3 separate regions of the Homo sapiens genome follow, and all the other regions are linked to region 1. The links come from fine-mapping of genetic effects on gene expression. Tissue or cell type: subcutaneous fat. Region 1 holds a variant in brackets; each other region holds the start of a gene. All regions are shown on one strand. Distances are from middle to middle.

What was found. PIP is the estimated chance that this variant, and not a neighbour inherited with it, causes the effect.
Region 2: BLOC1S2 starts here. The variant in region 1 is fine-mapped to the expression of BLOC1S2 in subcutaneous fat (GTEx, PIP above 0.99).
Region 3: it holds the start of SCD, and the variant in region 1 is fine-mapped to the expression of SCD in subcutaneous fat (GTEx, PIP above 0.99). The same link has a PIP of 0.9 or more in visceral fat.

The regions. Positions count from the first base shown.
Region 1 is chr10:100,314,603-100,317,102 of GRCh38, reverse strand. The region is part of intron 2 of PKD2L1 (polycystin 2 like 1, transient receptor potential cation channel); the gene reads left to right. Among named protein-coding and RNA genes, the nearest start is that of PKD2L1, 14 kb to the left of the region's middle. The variant C/T (reference allele first, on the strand shown) is at 1,381.
Region 2 is chr10:100,285,479-100,287,978 of GRCh38, reverse strand. BLOC1S2 (biogenesis of lysosomal organelles complex 1 subunit 2) reads left to right here and starts at 1,299. Exons shown (of 5, transcript NM_173809.5): 1 at 1,299-1,374; 2 at 1,766-1,882. The coding sequence starts at 1,320. RefSeq lists a silencer at 1,183-1,382 and enhancers at 1,673-1,972, 1,558-2,065.
Region 3 is chr10:100,346,229-100,348,728 of GRCh38, reverse strand. SCD (stearoyl-CoA desaturase) reads right to left here and starts at 1,496. Exons shown (of 6, transcript NM_005063.5): 1 at 1,198-1,496; 2 at 383-665. The coding sequence starts at 1,224. RefSeq lists enhancers at 1,132-1,371, 1,752-1,821, 1,470-2,061 and silencers at 1,602-1,651, 1,852-2,231.

The DNA of each region.
Region 1 (2,500 bases):
ATTTTTATTTTTTTGAGATGGAATCTCAGCTCTGTCACCCAGGCTGCAGTGCAGTGGGGCGATCTTGGCTCACTGCAGCCACTGCCTCCCAGGCTCAAGGGATCCTCCCACCTCAGCCTCCCAGGTAGCTGGGACTACAGGCAGGTGCCACCACACCCAGCTAATTTTTTGTATTTTTGGTAGAGATGGGGTTTTACCATGTTACCCAGGCTGGACTCGAACTCCTGAGCTCAAGCTATGCACCTGCCTTGACTTCCCAAAGTGCTGAGATTACAGGCATGAATCACTGTGTCTGGCCAGTTTTAACTTTTAATAAGGTAATGATTGATAGATATAACCCAAATAAATGAAAACTGTTTGTAGTCCTCAAAATATTGAAGTTGCAAAGGGGTTCTGAGAACAAAATGTGTGTAAACCACTGGCTCAGAGACTGAGTCTAAGCTGGTCAAATTAGATTATTTCATAGCATGGAGGAAAAGAACAGATGAGACAAAGAGAGCTTATTAGCAAAATGCTGAAACTAAGTTTGAGATCCTGGATAGTCACACATTCATTCATTCAAACATTTATGAAGTCTTACTATGTGCCAGGCCCTAGGCCAAGTGCTGAGGGTTTTGAAATACCTGAGACAAGGCTGGGCAAGATGGCTCACACCTGTGGCTCAGAATTTTGGGAGGCCGAGGCAGGCAGATCACCTGAGGTCAGGAGTTCGAGACCAGCTTGACCAACATGGAGAAACCCCATCTCTACTAAAAATACAAAATTAGCCAGGCGTGGTGGCGCATGCCGGTAATCCTAGCTACTCCGGAGGCTGAGGCAGGAGAATTGCTTGAACCTGGGAGGCAGAGTTTGCAATGAGCTGAGATCGTGCCATTGCACACCAGCCTGGGCAACAAAAGCAAGACTCCGTCTCAAAAAAAACAAAAGAAATACCCGAGACACATCTTCTGCCTTCAAGGAGTAAGGAAGGCTGACATGTAAACAAACAGTGACATAGAATGTGATGAGCGCTACAGTGGAGGGTGCACTGGGACCATGGTAAGAAGTGGGAGACAAAGTGGTCAGGGAGAGCTGGGAAATCTTGAAGGTCCCAGAGACAGGTACCATTCGTGTCTGGGGAAGCCCAAAGTCATCGCCATTTGCTTGCCTGCTTATTTTAACAGTGTTAAAACTGTTTTTAACTGTTTTTAAGTCATTGCCAGGGAGGCCTAAAGTCATTGCCATTTGCTTGCTTGCCTGTTAGTTTTAATAGTGCTGGCTGTCAGCCTGGAGGAGGCAGGGGATGGAGGAGGTAGCGCCAGCCAACTAAGGCCTCAGGCTATGAATATGCAAGAGTTTTGCCATAGTCAGAGTCTCAAGGGGCAAGTAAGAGGAAAAAGG[C/T]GTAAACCAGCATTTCTTCTCATTCTATTACAACATAATTCTACCCCCTTTCCCCTACAAAGAAAATCAGACTGGTAATATATTTATTAAATTTTTACCTAATACATAGTCCTTGTTTTTTAAAAGTCAAATAACATAGAGAATGTGAAAATCCCTCTTCATTCTCAGCAAACTAACACAGGAACAGAAAACCAAACATCGCATGCTCTCACTCATAAGTGGAAGTTGAACAACGAGAATACATGGACACAGGGAGGGGAACAACACACACCCAGGCCTGTCACGGGGTAGGGGGCAAGGGGAGGGAGAGGATTAGGACAAATATCTAATGCGTGCAGGTCTTAAAACCTAGATGATGAGTCGATAGGTGCAGCAAACCACCATGGCACATGTATACCTATGTGACAAACCTGGGCTTAAAACCTAGATGACGGGTTGATAGGTGCAGCAAACCACCGTGGCACATGTATACCTATGTAACAAACCTGCACGTTCTGCACATGTACCCCAGAACTTAAAGTAAAATAAAATAAAACAAAATAAAAAATCCCTCTCAGTAATCACTGTTCCTAGTTTGGTATATAATCATTTCAACTGTTTTCTCTTCCCTTCCCTTCCCTTCCCTTCCCTTCCCTTCCCTTCCCTTCCCTTCCCTTCCCTTCCCTTCCCTTCCCTTCCCTTCCCTTCCCTTCCCTTCCCTTCCCTTCCCTTCCTTCCTTCCTTCCTTCCTTCCTTCCTTCCTTCCTTCCTTCCTTCCTTCTTTCTTTCTTTCTTTCTTTTCTGCCTTAGCCTCTGGAGTAGCTGAGACTACAGGCTCACACCAACACGCCTGGCTAATTTTTGTATTTTTAGTAGAGATGGGGTTTCACCATGTTGGCCAGGCTGGTCTTGAACTCCTGACCTTGGGTGATCCCCACCCACCTCAGCCTCCCAAAGTGCTGGGATTACAGGCTAGCCAGCGCACCCGGCCCATTTCAATTGTTTTCTAGACATATATAAATATACATGAATTTTAGATAAAGAAGCTTCTGTTGGTTTACACTAGAAGGATGTGTAAAGTCAACAGCAATGCCGTCTGTGAGGTGGAACGTCCGCTGATTGTGATAAATGTAGTATAGGA
Region 2 (2,500 bases), 29 kb after region 1:
CGCTTGTAATCCCAGCACTTTGGGAGGCTATGTTGGGTGGATCACTTGAGGCCAGAAGTTCCAGACAAGCCTGGGCAAAATGCTGAAATCCTGTCTTTAATAAAAATACAAACAAATTAGCCAGGTGTGGTGGCGCGTGCCTGTTATCCCAGCTACTTGGGAGGCTGAGGCATGAGAATCGTTTGAACTCGGGAGGTGGAGGTTGCAGTGAGCTGAGCCGAGATCACGTTACTGTACTCCAGCCTGGGTGACAGAGCGAGACTCTGTTTCAAAAAAAAGAACTTCTGGCTCGCAGGAATGGCTTGAAATAGTGGCTACTATGGTTGCACCATAGGAAAAGTGGGGACAGGTGACAAGTGAGACTCAGTCCTCAGGGTGGAGACAGTCAGGGTAGGAGGGCTGGGGATAAGGGGTAGCTGGCGTGTGTGTGTATGTACTGGCATCGGGGTGGGGTGAGAGGGTGCAGAGGGAGGATAACCAGGGATAAGAAAAGAAACTACCAAGATTTTGGGTGTCCAGGAGCCTGCCTGAGGCCTGCTGAATATCTCCTATCCCTTCTTCTGTGGCCTTTATCCCTCCTCATTTTGCACCTTCAATTGCTCCCCAGTCACTTCTTCTCATCCATCTCTTTCACTCACTCCTGTTCTCCCATCCCATTAAGTACTCTGTACACCTAGGAGGCTTGTGAAACAGCTTAAATGCAATTAAGATAACCAGAGTGTATCCTCAGCCCTAAAAAAGTTACAGTCTAAGCTTTCTTCAAGGAAGGCTGTATCAACTGAAGAGAAGTAGATGCCTGCCTGCAGTTTAAGAAATAGGGGCCAGTGAGTTGGTGTTAACTCAGGACATTGGGAGGGACAGTATTTAGGACCAGGGATCAATGCCTGAAGGTTTCCCAAAGTGTGGACGAGACAACCTGTAAAACTTTGGATTCCCTGAGCAATCTTTTGATGACTAACTCCAGTGCGGAGTGTCAGGAGAGCGGGCAATCCGTCTTCAGTGGTTTTGGTCAGCAGGCCACAAACAGGGTTGACTATTCCCAGACGGGTCGTGAGTGGTACAAGATGAGTGATCCCTCCAGGGTGTGACTGTAGGGATGAGCTCGCCCTCAGTCCCAGACGTCGCGACTGTTGGCAGTGGATCAATTCACAACAGCCTGGCGTAGCTTCAATTTCGGCTCCGGAATCGCCCTTTGCTGTGTCATAGACCTGAGGCTGGACTGGACCGCTAGGCGCAGGACTGCAGGGCCGGCCGGGTGGGCGGGGCACACCCAGTGCGCATGCGCAGCACCCCGGCCCGGAAACAGCGCGGGGTCCGCTATGGCGGCGGCAGCCGAGGGCGTACTGGCGACCCGGAGTGATGAGCCCGCCCGAGGTACCCGGAATGGATGGGGAGGAAGCGTCCGGTGGGGGGCCTGGGGCTCCGTCTCGGGTGGGCGAGGTTGAGTGTGTGGTGGCTCACCTGGCAGGAACGGGCTGGTGAGAGGAGTGCACTTGTCGCTGCGCGCGAGTGTTTGTCCTGTCAGGGTGACTGGGATGGTGCCAGGATGAGCGGGGGTGCCGGGTATGGGCGAGGGGCGGTGCGAGGGAGGCGAGTTGATGTGTCAGATGGGCAGGGACGCAGTGAAGGACTTGAAATTATGGCAGATGGAGAATGGAGCCGACTTGATGGAATGAAGGCAAGTGGAGGGATGTCGGAACAGGCTGCTTTGGCTGGATTAGCACCGGGTGTAGGCGGGACACTTAGTCATTCTCCCTTGGCCCAGACGATGCCGCCGTGGAGACAGCTGAGGAAGCAAAGGAGCCTGCTGAAGCTGACATCACTGAGCTCTGCCGGGACATGTTCTCCAAAATGGCCACTTACCTGACTGGGGAACTGACGGGTGAGGCGGGGTCTGGGTTGATTCGGGTGCGGTTTGGCCCAGGAGGCCTGGGAGATGGTTAGCAGCATCAGTCTGCAGCTCCCTTCCTACCCTGCATGCCCTGAGACAGGCCTGTTGGAAGTTGGGGGAGGCCATGAATGGGAGAGAAAGAAAATACAACTCTGCAGGCCTCTGTAACATAGACTAATGAGAAAACAATAACAAAAAAGAGTTCATATCCAGCAACAGTAATCAAGAAGTGCTTCCTTGGGGAAAGTGTATTTTGAGCAGGGTTGTGAAGGGAATTATTGGTGGAAAAGGGGGAGATGATACAACTAGCGAATGAGGTGGTATGTGCAAGCAGTGTGTTTGGCTAAAGCAGAAGATGTGTTTACCGGGATAAAGAGAAATGAAATTGAGGAACGGGGAGTGACCTGCAGATTTAGGGACCTATTAGTTTGGTCTGAGGATTTGATAACCCATCCTTTGGGACATGACTAGTGTTTGATCGTTTCCAAGTGGACACATGACCTATGTGTGGAGGAGGATCAGAAAGTGAAGTATGGGCAGGGCGCGGTGGCTCATGCCTTTAATCCCAGAGGCCGAGGCTGGTGGATCACTTGAGGTCAGGAGTTTGAG
Region 3 (2,500 bases), 32 kb before region 1:
CAATGGTTTAGTACCATGTTCCCATGCCTCCCAGGTAGAGGGGTTTGATTCTTTTGTGGCTGGCAGGGGTGGGACAGGCAGCCAAGCAAATGACTCAAACAGAAAAGCTCTTTCAGGGAAAGCTGACTCTCCAGCACAGCACACTTCAAAGCCCACAAGCACAAGGTTCCAAAGCTCTCAACCCCCAGCATTGACAGTCCTGCATCTCAGTACCCCCAGGTTCTTCCCAGCCCACTAGGCCTGAAGCAACCAAAGAGAAATGCCTGAGAAAAACCCCAACCGGGAGGCTGGGAGGGGCTGGTGTCCTCTGTAAGATCCTACCTTATTAAAAGAGCAGTGAGTACCTGGAGGACTAGGTCAGGAGGACAGGGAGGCTGCTTACCCCAAAGCCAGGTGTAGAACTTGCAGGTAGGAATCAAAGTGATCCCATACAGGGCTCCCAAGTGTAGCAGAGACATAAGGATGATGTTTCTCCAGACATATTCAACCTTGGGGCTTGGGCCTTCCTTATCCTTGTAGGTGGGGTCATATATATCATCTTTTATATCAGGGCGAATGTCGTCTTCCAAGTAGAGGGGCATCGTCTCCAACTTATCTCCTCCATTCTGCAGGACCCTGGAGGGAGGCGCTGTAATGGTGGTGGTGGTGGTATAGGAGCTAGAGATCTGGAAGGGGGAGGAAGAGGAGAGTCAGGAGAAGAGACACGTGGAGGCAGCTGGGGCCACTCCGCTCTCTAATCACGCTGGGGGAAGGGTGGACAGTACGGACCCTTCCGCAGCGCCGTAGTTCACTGAGGGTAGGGTGTATCCGAGACGCAACGGAGAAAAGTTCCCTGAAACTGTACAGATACATTAGGGGCGGAGGGCGAGGGGGACGAGGGGCGCGAAACCTATCGGGAGGCGGCAGTAGGAAGGAGAAGTAAAGCACTCACATCCCCACGAAGACAAAGGAAAACCCGCATAATTCATAAAAGCACCAGCACGACCGGATTTTTCTTTAAAGCTTAAGAAACTAAAGTTGGAGACTCAAGTCCCCAAATTACAATCCACATTCCCAACTCACGGAAGGCAGCACAACTCGAAAAAGATGACCAAGTCCTCCGCGGAGCTCTCCCCTCTCTTCTGCCACCAACCCGTCCCCTGGAAGCCCAGCCCGCGCCTGCGACCCGGCGGTACGGGGCCAGGCTGGGAAACTCACATCGTCCTGCAGCAAGTGGGCCGGCATCTTGGCTCTCGGATGCCGGGATCACTTTCCAGGGGGCTGAGGCTCCGGAGCGGAGTTCGGGGTCGCCGGAGGACTGCGGTTTCGAAGCCCGCCGGTACGCGCTGAGCCGCGGCGCCTTGCACGCTAGCTGGTTGTCGGCGCTAGCCGCGGTGCGTGGAGGTCCCCGAGCCGGGAATTTAAAGGCTAGAGCTGGCAACGGGTGACCGTGTCCGGTATTTCCTCAGCCCCCTTTTATCCGCTGCCAAGCAGGGGCAAAGTGCGAGGAGTTGACTGGCGCGGGCGGTCCCGCGTGGAGGTAAGGGCGGGAGGGGGAGGAGACAGAGGCCGAGGCTCGCGGCGACCGCAGCAGGGCGCCGGGGATGCTGCCGACACCGACACCACACCACCCGGCCTCTGCCCCTGCCCCTGCCTCTGGGGAAATGCTAATGAGGCTTCTGTAAACTCCGGCTCGTCATTGGCCGAAGGGAATTTGGTGCCACCTCGTCCTGCCGTTGCCATTGGCTCGGCGCAATCTGCTGTTCCCTCTGCCGCCAGCTCCTCGCTCCCCCTCCCCTCTGTTTCTCCTTCTCAGCTTCTCTTCCACCCGCCGCTGGGCCTCTGCCCGGCATCCCGCGTCGGGAGCTTTCTCTCTGGAAGGGGCTGGGGACCCGGTTTGGGGCTGGGGCGCGGAGCCTAGCCCAGGACCGGCCCTCGGGCACACGGAGAACGGGTGGGTGGGCACTGGGGAAGTTTCTCAGGAAACAGTGGTGAACCCTCGGGGGGCGCCCACCACTAACATCTCCGTCCCGTCTTCCGTCCCCCCAGGCGCGTGGCAGGGAGACGTGGCAGCCACCCCAGGATCTGGAGCTTGGGGGACGCGGGAAGCCCCGCCTCCCTCCCGGGCGAGCGCGGGGGACTCGGTACGCCTGCGAACAATGGCTCTGCCCCGCCCACCAGCCACGCGCTGCTCACCCGGGACCGCACCGGACTCCGGCCGCACACACAGGCTGGCTGGTGTGTGTGTGCCTGCGCGCACGCATCCTGTTCAGGACCCGGGCGGGCAGTCCCATCCCCAAGCCCGCGCCTCCAGGATGCGTGCGGGATGTTTTGGAGATTCTTCAGACTGGCAGGTTGTAATTTTGGAATCTTCTTTGTGGAAACCGTCAGGAAACACTGACATGTGTTTTCACCCAGCAGCAGGCGAAAGGGCTTGGATGTGGAATAAGAATAGCTGGCAGGTATTGAATTATTACTGCAAGCCAATTCACAAGAATCGTTTTCTGTAAGCCTCTCTGTG